Linked DNA regions of Homo sapiens. The protein of the gene in region 1 interacts with the protein of each later gene in a biochemical or structural test. Each region holds a gene or a part of one and is shown on either strand. Other genes may lie near its edges.

Evidence for each region.
Region 2: the proteins of TMED10 (region 1) and SEC23B interact in a test that uses a peptide from one of them, tested with the Homo sapiens proteins (one study listed by BioGRID).
Region 3: of the proteins of TMED10 (region 1) and FBXO7, one has a biochemical effect on the other in vitro, tested with the Homo sapiens proteins (one large-scale study listed by BioGRID).

The regions. Positions count from the first base shown.
Region 1 is NC_000014.9:75,166,531-75,170,184, reverse strand, and holds part of TMED10 (transmembrane emp24 domain-containing protein 10 precursor), read left to right. Parts: intron 1-3,654. UniProt on the Homo sapiens protein: Cargo receptor involved in protein vesicular trafficking and quality control in the endoplasmic reticulum (ER) and Golgi.
Region 2 is NC_000020.11:18,545,914-18,549,567, reverse strand, and holds part of SEC23B (protein transport protein Sec23B), read right to left. Parts: intron 3,613-3,654; coding exon 3,535-3,612; intron 960-3,534; coding exon 798-959; intron 1-797. UniProt on the Homo sapiens protein: Component of the coat protein complex II (COPII) which promotes the formation of transport vesicles from the endoplasmic reticulum (ER).
Region 3 is NC_000022.11:32,484,811-32,488,464, reverse strand, and holds part of FBXO7 (F-box only protein 7), read right to left. Parts: intron 3,398-3,654; coding exon 3,256-3,397; intron 721-3,255; coding exon 637-720; intron 1-636. UniProt on the Homo sapiens protein: Substrate recognition component of a SCF (SKP1-CUL1-F-box protein) E3 ubiquitin-protein ligase complex which mediates the ubiquitination and subsequent proteasomal degradation of target proteins and plays a role in several biological processes such as cell cycle, cell proliferation, or maintenance of chromosome stability.

The DNA.
Region 1 (3,654 bases):
GCAATCTTGGCTCACTGCAGGCTCTGCTCCCCGGGGTTCACACCATTCTCCTGCCTCAGCCTCCCAAGTAGCTGGGACTACAGGCGCCCGCCACCACGCCCGGCTAATTTTTTGTATTTTTTGTATTTTTTGTATTTCACCGTGTTAGCCAGGATGGTCTCAATCCCCTGACCTCATGATCCGCCCGCCTCTGCCTCCCAAAGTGCTGGGATTACAGGCATGAGCCACCACGCCCGGCCGTTCCACTTTTTCTTATATTTTGACGACTGCTTCAAGGATTCTCCCTATGCATCATTTTAGCTTCTGGAGTGCAACTCCTAAGTGCCAGAGCTCCTTTTCATATGGTAGGCCACATTCTAGGTCTCAGTTCAGCCAATGGATTGTCTTGTCTTTGGTCATATTTCCACCCCTGCTTTAGGCAGCTGTGGTTTGATTTGAGGTAGGAGGAGAACTGGAGACTGGTGCAGAACCTGGCCAGCTGAGCTTAGCATTTGGTGGTTGTGCTGAATGAGGCAGTCTTTTTTTTGAGATGGAGTTGCGCTCTTTTTGCCCAGGCTGGAGTGCAATGGCATGATCTCGGCTCACTGCAACCTCTGCCTCCCAGGTTCAAGCAATTCTCCTGCCTCAGCCTCCCAAGTAGCTGGGATTATAGGCGCGTACCACTACTCCCGGCTAATTTTTGTATTTTTAGTAGAGACGGGGTTTCACAATATTGTCCAGGTTGGTCTCAAACTCCTGACCTCAGGTGATCCGCCCGTCTCCCAAAGTGCTGGGATTACAGGCGTGAGCCACTGTGCCTAGCCTGAGGCAGTCTTTCTTATAAGGGTCTCTGTGAATATAGTGCCTTGGTTAATCTGACTGATTCACCTTCTTTCTGTCTAGGAACATCTCAGTATCCAGTGAATGCACCTATGTTATCATATACCACTCTGTGTTGCAGTTGTGTATTTGCCCATCTCCTGGGATAAACTATAAGCTGCTTGAACAGAGACTAGGTTTCATTCATCATTGCAATGCTTGTCTAAAATAAGGCCTGGCACATAGTAGGACCTTATCCTAAGGAATTAGTGAACAGACGAGCAAGCACTGTCTTTGCCTCATCTCTGATCTTTCCCTCTTCCATTCTCTTTATTTGCTTCCTCCCACTCTGACTCTAGCTATACTGAACACCTTACAGTTCTTTGAATATAATGTTCTCTTTACCTGGATCAATGTTTGACTTTCTGTGTCCCCTATGTGTCCCATTGGCTTATAACTTCTTTTTTCCCCCTCACCAAAAGTTGTATGAAAAGATACTGTAGTACCATTACATCCTGTTTTACATGGCACTTTTCATGTAGTGTAGTGTTTACTTTGTGAACTCTTTAATGTCTTACTCATCTTTGTGTCTTTAGTTTAACGTACACATTGTTGTATAACTGAGTTAAACATCTTAGTCTTCTTGAGAAGCCTTGTGGTATGGTAGAGACTAGATCTGAAGTAAGATAGATTTGGTTCAGATCCCAGCAGCTCCACCATTTAAAGGTTATGTGGGTCTTGCAGGGATTACTTAACCCTTCTTCTCTGGTCCTGTTTCTGTAATATGGGAATCGTAGAGCTCATAAACTTGTTAGAAGGACTGATTGAGATGGGTGAGGTTTTTATTGTGCAGGGCCCATTATGGTGCTCCATAGATGTTAGTACTCTTTTCTTTCCTCTGTATTGAATGAAAATTGAATTGCTTCTCAGAGCCCCTCATGCTATATGTCATTGAAATAAGTAGATATGGAGTATTTTAATGAGAGGAATTATGAGTAGTTTGTGATTCTTTCATTCATTCAACAAATATTTATGTAATATTTAGTATGTGTCAGACCTGGCTGAGAATATGGGGATAAACGGGACAAGGTCCTCAAGCTCTTGTGGGGAACAAAGACAAAAAACAAGTTAAAATAATAGAATTTCAGGTAGTGATAAGCACTATAATGAAAGTTCAGGCACTAGGGAGTAGGGGGTGACTGATGGGTTAAAGGGTGTTTGAGTGGTCAGGGGAGGCCTTTCTGAAGCAGAGAGAGATAAATGGATTGAAATGATGGGTGGTCCTCTCCTGCAAAGATTTCTATTTCAGACCTATATTGAGATGCATTTTGTGTTAAGATCTCCAAACTGAGTCTATTCCATACTTCCCTACTCATTTCATAAAGTGAGGCTAAATCAGGCTAACTAGTGTCAGGTATAAAGACTTTGCTGCACATAATTGAAGCAGGAAGTATCAACTCGTCATTTACAGTGAATATAGAAGTTTCCTCCATTACTTCAGGTCCATAATAAAAGCCTGTTGTAGGGACTCAGAAATTTGGGTAATATTTTTATTATTATTTTGCTCTGGCTGGAGTGCAGTGGCATGATCATAGCTCGCTGCAACCTCGAACTCCTGGCCTCAAGTGATCCTCCCACAGCACTGAGATTACAGGCATGAACCCCTGCACCTGGCTGAAAATTTGGATCTTATACCAAGTTATGATTTCTGTCCTTCCCAACTAGCTTATAGATAAGAAAGCCAAACAGATCCCTTAAAGAGTTCAGCCTTGAATCACAGGCCTACCACAACTTAAGCCTAAAAATTATGAAGAAGTAACTTGGCAGTTGGGAAACTATTGGCTTATAACTTCTTTTTTCCCTCACCCAAAGCTGTATGAGAAGATACTATAGGCCAGGCATGAGGACAGAGAGGAGAGGGAGGAGGAAGGAGAAAAGGACAGTGGTGGGGGTGGGGGCGAGGAGGAGAAAAGAGAGAGAGGCAGAGGGGCGAAGAGGCAGGGGAGGGAGGAAGGAAGGAAAAGATGGTATATATGCTATAGTTTTCAGATTATTTTGTTTGGAATTACTGTATTTCAGCTTTTTTATTACTGGTATCTGTACTGAGGTCTGTTCTGTGCTGACAAGGAGAAAGAATAGGATGCTTCGGCTGGGCGTGGTGGCTCACGCCTGTAATCCCAGCACTTTGGGAAGCTGAGGTGGGTGGATCACGAGGTCAGGAGAATGAGACCATCCTGGCCAACATGGTGAAACCCTGTCTCTACTGAAAATACAAAAATTAGCCAGGCGTGGTAGTGTGCACCTGTGGTCCCAGCTACTCAGGAGGCTGAGGCAGGAGAATCGCTTGAACCTGGGAAGTGGAGGTTGCAGTGAGCCGAGATCACGCCACTGCACTCCAGCCTGGGCGACAGAGTGAGACTCCGTCTCAAAAAAAAAAAAAAAAAAAAGGAATAGGATGCATGTTGCTCAGTCATCGAAATGAACCATCCTTTTTATCAATAACGATCCCATGAACCCTTACTTATGCCAGACTTTTTCTGTAGGGAGAAATATGGCCCTTTCAGCGTGAATTTAACGTGACTGTTGTTCACTGGGTTAGAAACAGGTCAATAAATAGATGGTTCAGTACAGAAGGCTAATTGGTACATTGACATTTAATAATATAAATCGAATTTCTTTTTGTATTATATACAAAGTTCCTAGCTTTTAATTATAACTTGACCTTTGCGTCCTTCTCCATAAAAGTTAAAGGATACATTGCTTCATTTAAATCTCTCTTATTCAGTAAACAGTTGTCTACAGCCTTCCCTGTTTTGAACTGATCTAGAGAAGGGGGCTGCTTCCAGTTTGAAATTG
Region 2 (3,654 bases), on another chromosome or scaffold:
GACTTATCTATTTTATTATGTTACATACTTTTTGTGAATACTGTTGGCCCTCCGTATCGGTGGGTTCCACATCTATAAATTCAACCAATCTTGGACTGAAAATATTTGAAAAAAATATGCATCTGTACTGTACATGTACAGACTTGTTTTCTTGTCATTATTCCCTAAACCATACAGTATGACAATTATTTACATGGTACTTACATTATATTAGGTATTATAACTAATCTAGAGATGATTTAAAGTATATAGGAGGATGTGCCAAGGTTACATGCAAATATTATGTAATTTTATATTAGTAACTTGAGTATCTAAGAATTCTGGTATCTGAGGGAGGTCCTGGAACCAATCTTCCATGAATACTGAGGGTCAACTGCATTTCTCAGGTTACTTATTTATTTTCCTATATTAAACATTCGGATTGTTATTTGATCCTCTATTATAGTAGTTCCTTTACTATTTTTTTTTTTGGCACAAAGTCTACTCTGTATCTAGGAGTCTTTCCTTCAGATACAAGACATGGAATTGTTGGATGTAAGTATACAAGCACAAGGAAAAAGAAAGCATCCAAGTTATTTCCTAGAGTTTTTTACATTTATTCCTGCCTTTCACAAATAATAGCTTTATATGTCCTTTGACATTTTCCTAAAGGTATTTTTTAATAGAAATAATGTTAAATTACTATAAAAACTCCAAATTTTACTTCTTTTTTACAGTTCTGCTAAGTAAATTTGCTTAAAAAAGAATATATGTTAGGTGATTCCAATCCTCAGGAAAGCATTTGGGTAGAGCCTCACCTCTGGTGGCCCATGAAAGGAGTAAGAGTAGAGAATGGGCTGGATCATGATGAGGGACTGGGTCAGGTCCTGCCGGGCAAAATGATGTCTGTAATATGACGACTCATCAGGACTGTTGTTAAACACTTGAAGAAATGGAGATCTTCTCAGATGGAACATAAACTGCATTCACAAAGAACGGAAAGAGAAATGCATATAATTGTAACCTTCTTAGACACCCACAGAGTAGATCTACCTCAGGGCTCTGAAATAGGAGAACCCAGAAAAGGGCTCTCTGGTTTCACAGAACAGAAAGCATAAGGGGGCACCAGGGGCTAGGGAAAGAGGAAAACTGAGAGTTGTTGCTTAATGAGCACAGAGTTTCAGCTCTGCAAAGTGAAAAATTCTAGACATCAGTTGCTCAATAATGGGAATACACGTAACACTACTCAACGGTATGCTTAAAAATGGTTAAGATGGTAAATTTTGTTATGTGTGTTTTACCACATTAAAAATTAATTTTTTTTTTTAAAGGGCCTTTGGCCAGGCGTGGTGGCTCACGCCTGTAATCCCAGCACTTTGGGAGGCCGAGGCGGGCGGATCACCTGAGGTCGGGAGTTCAAGACCAGCCTGACCAACATGGAGAAACCCCGTCTCTACTAAAAATCCAAAATTACCCGGGTGTGGTGGTGGGCGCCTGTAATCCCAGCTACTCAGGAGGCTGAGGCAGGAAAATCACTTGAACCCAGTAGGGGGAGGTTGCGGTGAGCTGAGATCAGGCCATTGCACTCCAGCCTGGGCAACAAGAGCAAAACTCCGTCTCAAAAAAATTAAAAATTAAAAATTTTTAAAAAAATACAAAATTTTTTTAAGAAAAGGGCCTCTGGGTATGTCAAAGCTTCCACAGTTAAGAGGAAAGCCAAAGAAATGTTTATTTCCAGAGTCACTGTGCCAGGCAGTGGAGACAGAATATCTGCTCTCAGAAGTCAGGCCCAGTGAGAAAGGCACACTCGGGCTACGAGTTATGAGCCAGAGTACAGGATAGCAGTGGGGAGTGGGGGTGGAGGGCCAGGAGGAGACTTCCTAGAGCTCCGGGGACTGACAGTGCACCCTGAGAGACGTGGCTGAGGAGGCCACAGGGCCAGGGGGAAGGGGATTCCAGGCACAGGAACAGCAGATGACAGCTCAGGACACAAGCTGGGATGGTGAAGTGTTGGTGCAGGGGAGAAAGGGACAAGGGATGACACTGCAACCATAGGTTCTCGCCCTCGAGGATGAGAAGAAGGGGTGGGGGCAGACTTTCAGCTCACATTAAAGAGTTGCCAGAACACGAAAATGAGCTGCCTTGTGAAGTGTAAAGCTTCCTGAGACTCCAAATATTCAATCATAGGTTCCTAAATAATAATCAAGGCTGACATCTAATACATCCTACATGCAAGTCACAAAGCACTTGACAAGAACTATTTAATCCTTCCAATAAGCCCATGAGGTAAGTTCTCTTACCATCCCTAGTTTACAGGTGAGGAAACTGAGGCACAGAGGGGCGAGCAACTTGTCCAAGGTCACCCCACTACTGAGTGTCACAGCTGGACTCTACACCTGGCCGCCTGGCTCTAGAGACTGGGCTGTTGGCCTCTTTCCTAGAATGCCTTGACAGAAGGAATCTGAGAAAGCATTTCATCTGGTTTTCAAGCTGTGCTCTTAGAGTCTTCATCAAGTCCTCAGGGGCCCAGGGATGAGGGCTCTGGTGGGACCCAGTGTGGGGGTGGTACACAGGCACAACCAGAGAAGCACCAACTCTGTCTGCTTTATGTGCTGGCTTTTAAGGGCAGCTCCTCTCAAAGAAAGGATTCCATGGCTTTAAAAAAAAAAAAAAAAAAAAAAAAAACTGCAAACCACTTCACCAGACCAACTCCCCACTGCTAGAGGTGGGAAACCAAACTCTACGGGGCTTTGGAACCTCCTCTAAGGTCAGCCCCTGCGGAGCCAGCACTGGAACCTCAACCTGACTCTGGCCGGTCCAGGGCTCTTCTCACAACACCACACAGCTTTAACCTCTGGCACATGGACACCTCAGAGTCCCAGGCACCTGCTATGGAGCTAGGTCACATTTAGTGCTGAACAGGTTACTGGCATTGTGCTAAATATTTAATACTCAGTTGGCCTCAGCTCCTGTAATCCTTATAGACACCCATGAATTGTGCTCTATTTCCTAAGTTACAATGGAGACGGAAATTCATCTACTTCTCCTGCTCCTCTCTCTTGTCCAATGGCTTCCAAAGGCTTGGTTCATGCAGAGTGCAGTTACTTTCAGGAGCTGCTTATTGCTCACTCCTGGTTATGATGCACATAATAACCACAGACATATTATTAAATATTTGTTGTACTAACTGTGGTTTTGTTTTGTTATCTTCATCTCCATGTGTGCTCATTTTCTTGGTTTGTTGCTGAGGTAGCTGTTTCCCCAGAACTTCTACACATGAGAGATATTTTTTACGGCCTTATATCAATGATCCTATTTTGCCTGTTCATGAAAATGTATGCATGAGTTTTCTCCCCTCTGCATGTCATCTCTATCTTCTGTAGGGCGTAGGGTGCTGTCTTGCCTAGACACATATTCGACTTGGGTTGAACAATCTCTGTCACCTACAGACTGAGTCTCAACACATTAAAAAGTCTTCACTTTACCCTAAGAATAAAGTTAATTTCTATCAAAATTTATTGCTCTGTAGTTATTTTAGAAACATACATTACTTACCTGAGGATATAGAGAAAAGGAATCTGATAACCTAAAAGAAGTGGGGTCTTCTTTGTTATACTGTCCAAACTTTTGACACTATGGAAAGAAAATACCAAAAAACAAACAAACACACACAAA
Region 3 (3,654 bases), on another chromosome or scaffold:
ACCTTATCTCTTCTGCTCCAACCACCTATAACTGCCTCTCACAGTTTGGTTTAACTGAAAAATGATAAAAGGGAAAACCTGTCTTCTTTGTATCTATTAATAATTTTATAGAGTTTAAGCAAAACCTTACCTAGAATGCAAACCTTTGGTAAAGTATCAATCTGTATAAAATAGCCATCAAATTTATATAGGTTTAAACAAACATTTTGATTGTAGTTTTTCCTCCAATAATCTTCAATAATGAACTTGACATTGAATTACTTTCATGAAACACAGATCCCCTCCATATTGGTTAAATACCAATATGGAGATCTCAATAGGGAGATCTCCAAAGATTAGTACAGAAACTATGAACTATCATCAGAGTGTAATAAATTACATACTAGTGTTATCTCATAACAATATAATTCAGCACACTATGACCCTAAGAAAAACAGGAAAGAAACAAACTCCTCAAATTATAAGCAAAACTTTCACATTTTTTAAACCTTTGCATTCTTAAACAAACCACATTGTCTTCAATATGCTTTAATCTCATATAGAAATTTTCAGTCTTTTGAACATTATCTTTCAGATTTTTTTCTTATATGAATTTCACAGAGTTTCACCCCAAAAGTTAAATAATGTTTGTATTACCTAGTTTCTCTTTGCAAATAAAAGATTCTGGTAGCAGCTGCAATCTTTTCACACTTCTAATCTCATTGTTGATTTTTAGTGTAGCTGTAAATAAACAAAAGAAAGATGATAAAGAATTCTGTCACTTCATCAACTGCCTTTCTTTTTTAGTATGGGCTTGCATTTCCTAGCTCCTAATATACTAAGGACACATTATACAAAACAAACTGTTCTTCGCCTATTTCTTTCTCTGATAGCAAGTTCAAAAGTGTAAACCTGGCATCACATGAAGTAAAATCACTCTACAACACCACCTTTAAAAACTACAGTAAGCATCTTTATATAAAATCCACTAGGCAGCAGCTTATTAGTAACTTAAAGATATGCAACAAGGTTAATCAGAGGCAACTAAACACAATAAAATCATTATTTCTAATGAAGTCACTAAAAACTCCATTTATTTTTTATTTAACCCTTGGCAATGAGTCTTCCTTTGTTCATTAAAATAATCTTGCTAGTTTTCACAGCATCATCTCTCTTCCAGACCCAAAGGATAAATATACTTGACATCACCAGAGGGTTCAATTTTAATCATGTATACAAAGGCGCACTTCATCTCATTCCATGAAAGAGCCCAGTGATGTGCTTATGCACATGTGCACCAAGCAGGATGCCTTGGGTGAAGGAAAGATTTAAAGACACACTGCTCCTTTTCAAAGAATCAATCCTGGAACGGCTGGCTGCCATGCAAGTCTGCCAAGAGCTGATTTGCCAAGAACAGTAAAGAAACAAAACATCAGAAATTAGGAAATCATCAAGACATTCAGCAGTTATTCTTTTTATATTAAGTATCCTGAATCTAGTGAATAGAGGTTATTATACACGTCATTAAGTGCTTTTATAAAAAATCAAGGCAAAATTTGCAACTACACATTTACTATTTGGTAACTCCAACCTTGCAAGTTATGATGTGATGTAGCAGAATGATTAGATGAAGGCAGAAACTGTTGACACTCTGTGTACAAGAATGCCAAAGTAAAAGCTACATTTGCTAATTATGATGAACTGCTGAATAGACATTGCTAGGTCCTAGTGTCATCAGACAGTCATGTCCTGACAAATGTGAAGTACCACCAAAGCTATTAAACCTAGTTTTGAGACTTTTAAATAACATTTCAAAGAATCTTATGACTAAAGAAATAGAAATTTCGTAAGAGGCCAGGCATGGTTCACACCTGTAATCCCAGCACTTTGGGAAGTCAAGGCAGGAATATTGCTTCAAACCCAGGAGTTTGAGACCAGCCTGGGCAACACAGTGACACTTCATCTCTACAAAAAATAAAATAAAAAATAGCCAGGTGTGGTGGTACACGCCTGTGGTCCTAGCTACTCAGGAGGCCAAGGAGGAAGACTGCTTGAGCCTAGGAGGTCAAGGATGCAATGATCCATGCTCTGCCTACTGCACTCCAGCCTGGGCGACAGAGCAAGACCCTGTCTCAAAAAAAAGAAAAAAGAAACTTTGTAAGAGGGGAATGAGAACTATCCAACATGTCAAAGATCAAGATGGCATGAGTCAGTAGCTTTCAAAATAGATTTTAGCAGGAAAAAAAAAAACCAACATTTTTTCAAACAGAATCTTACACAGAACTTCAATAAATGAAACAGATAAACATTTTGCTGCTCAAGGTTTAAGTGGTGATAGGGCTTCTACCTAACTTTCATCTCAGCAGAAAGGAGTAGCTACAGAACATACTGAAAACCTCTGACCTAAACCTTTGACCTAAGGCTTACCAAAGCAACTGCCTTTGCTAAACGAAAAAGATGAGCTATACTGAATAAAAAAACAACAAACGCAGCCCTCCCAATCTTACCACGCTATCTTTCTAACTAAAAGGATAAATCTCAAAAAACAAAACAGAACAAAAATGAAAGCTCCTAGTCATTCAAATGGATCTCCAGTATGTGTGATTATGACAGAACACTAGGAGTTGATATGAAACAAAGTGGTACCTGAACTAAAACACAGAGATGGAATGCATTGCTATTCCAGTGAAATTTCTTAATATGAAAAATAAACAGGAAAAGTTATTCATACAGAGTGACATTTGTTGGGGGAGGCCCAGCAAATAAAACACATACTTACTAAGGCCCCAGTAAACTTAGCATTGTTGTTGTGCATTGCTGGTCACAGGGATGCCAACTTGGATAAATGGTGACCCCAGGTCTAGCTCCCCATGTCTCAGTTCAAGACCTTCGTTAAAAAAATAAAGCCATCCACAGGCATAAAGAAAAAGTATTCTCCAAGGAGTTCATGTGTAATAGGCTCATTTCACTCCTATTATCAAATACTGATAATATTGGATAATATTAAATATTATCCCCCAGAGCAAAATATTACAAAGATTAAGACATCAAAAAAATGGATGCCCTAAGAATGAAGGGTGCTGGCCTAAACAACTCAACAACCTCATATTCCATGATCTTCCAGACACATGTTATCAGTGGCCTAGGAATTAAATACAGTTGAGAAGGACTCACAACTGTATCATGATAGCCAATCACTGAAGTGGCTATAAAACATTTGGAAAGAAACGTCTAAGAATCCATAAACCAGCAACCATGACTATGCTATCCAATTACCATTTACAACAATCAGGTTTCCCAAAGGCACACAGGTGAGAGTAGCGGAGCTGCCCTCGCAGAGAGGATGCATGTACTGCAGCTTATACACCCCGCTCAACTTCCACTTCTCCGGCATGGACAGTGCTTTGGCTTCGGTGCCCTGGGGAACGAAATGAAAGGGAAACAAATAATGAAGAAAGGTGTTACTCTCAAAAAGATTAAAAATCCAAAAGACTCCTAACTTGTTTGAAATAATCACTCCACACAGTCCTCTTAATAAAATGCATCAAATCATTAACATTGCCAATATATTTTATATTGTAGGATAACCATATTGTATAAGATAATATATTAGAACACTTTTAATCAAAATTTTTGTTCAAATAGGTAAAACTGCATCATGGAAACAGGGATTGA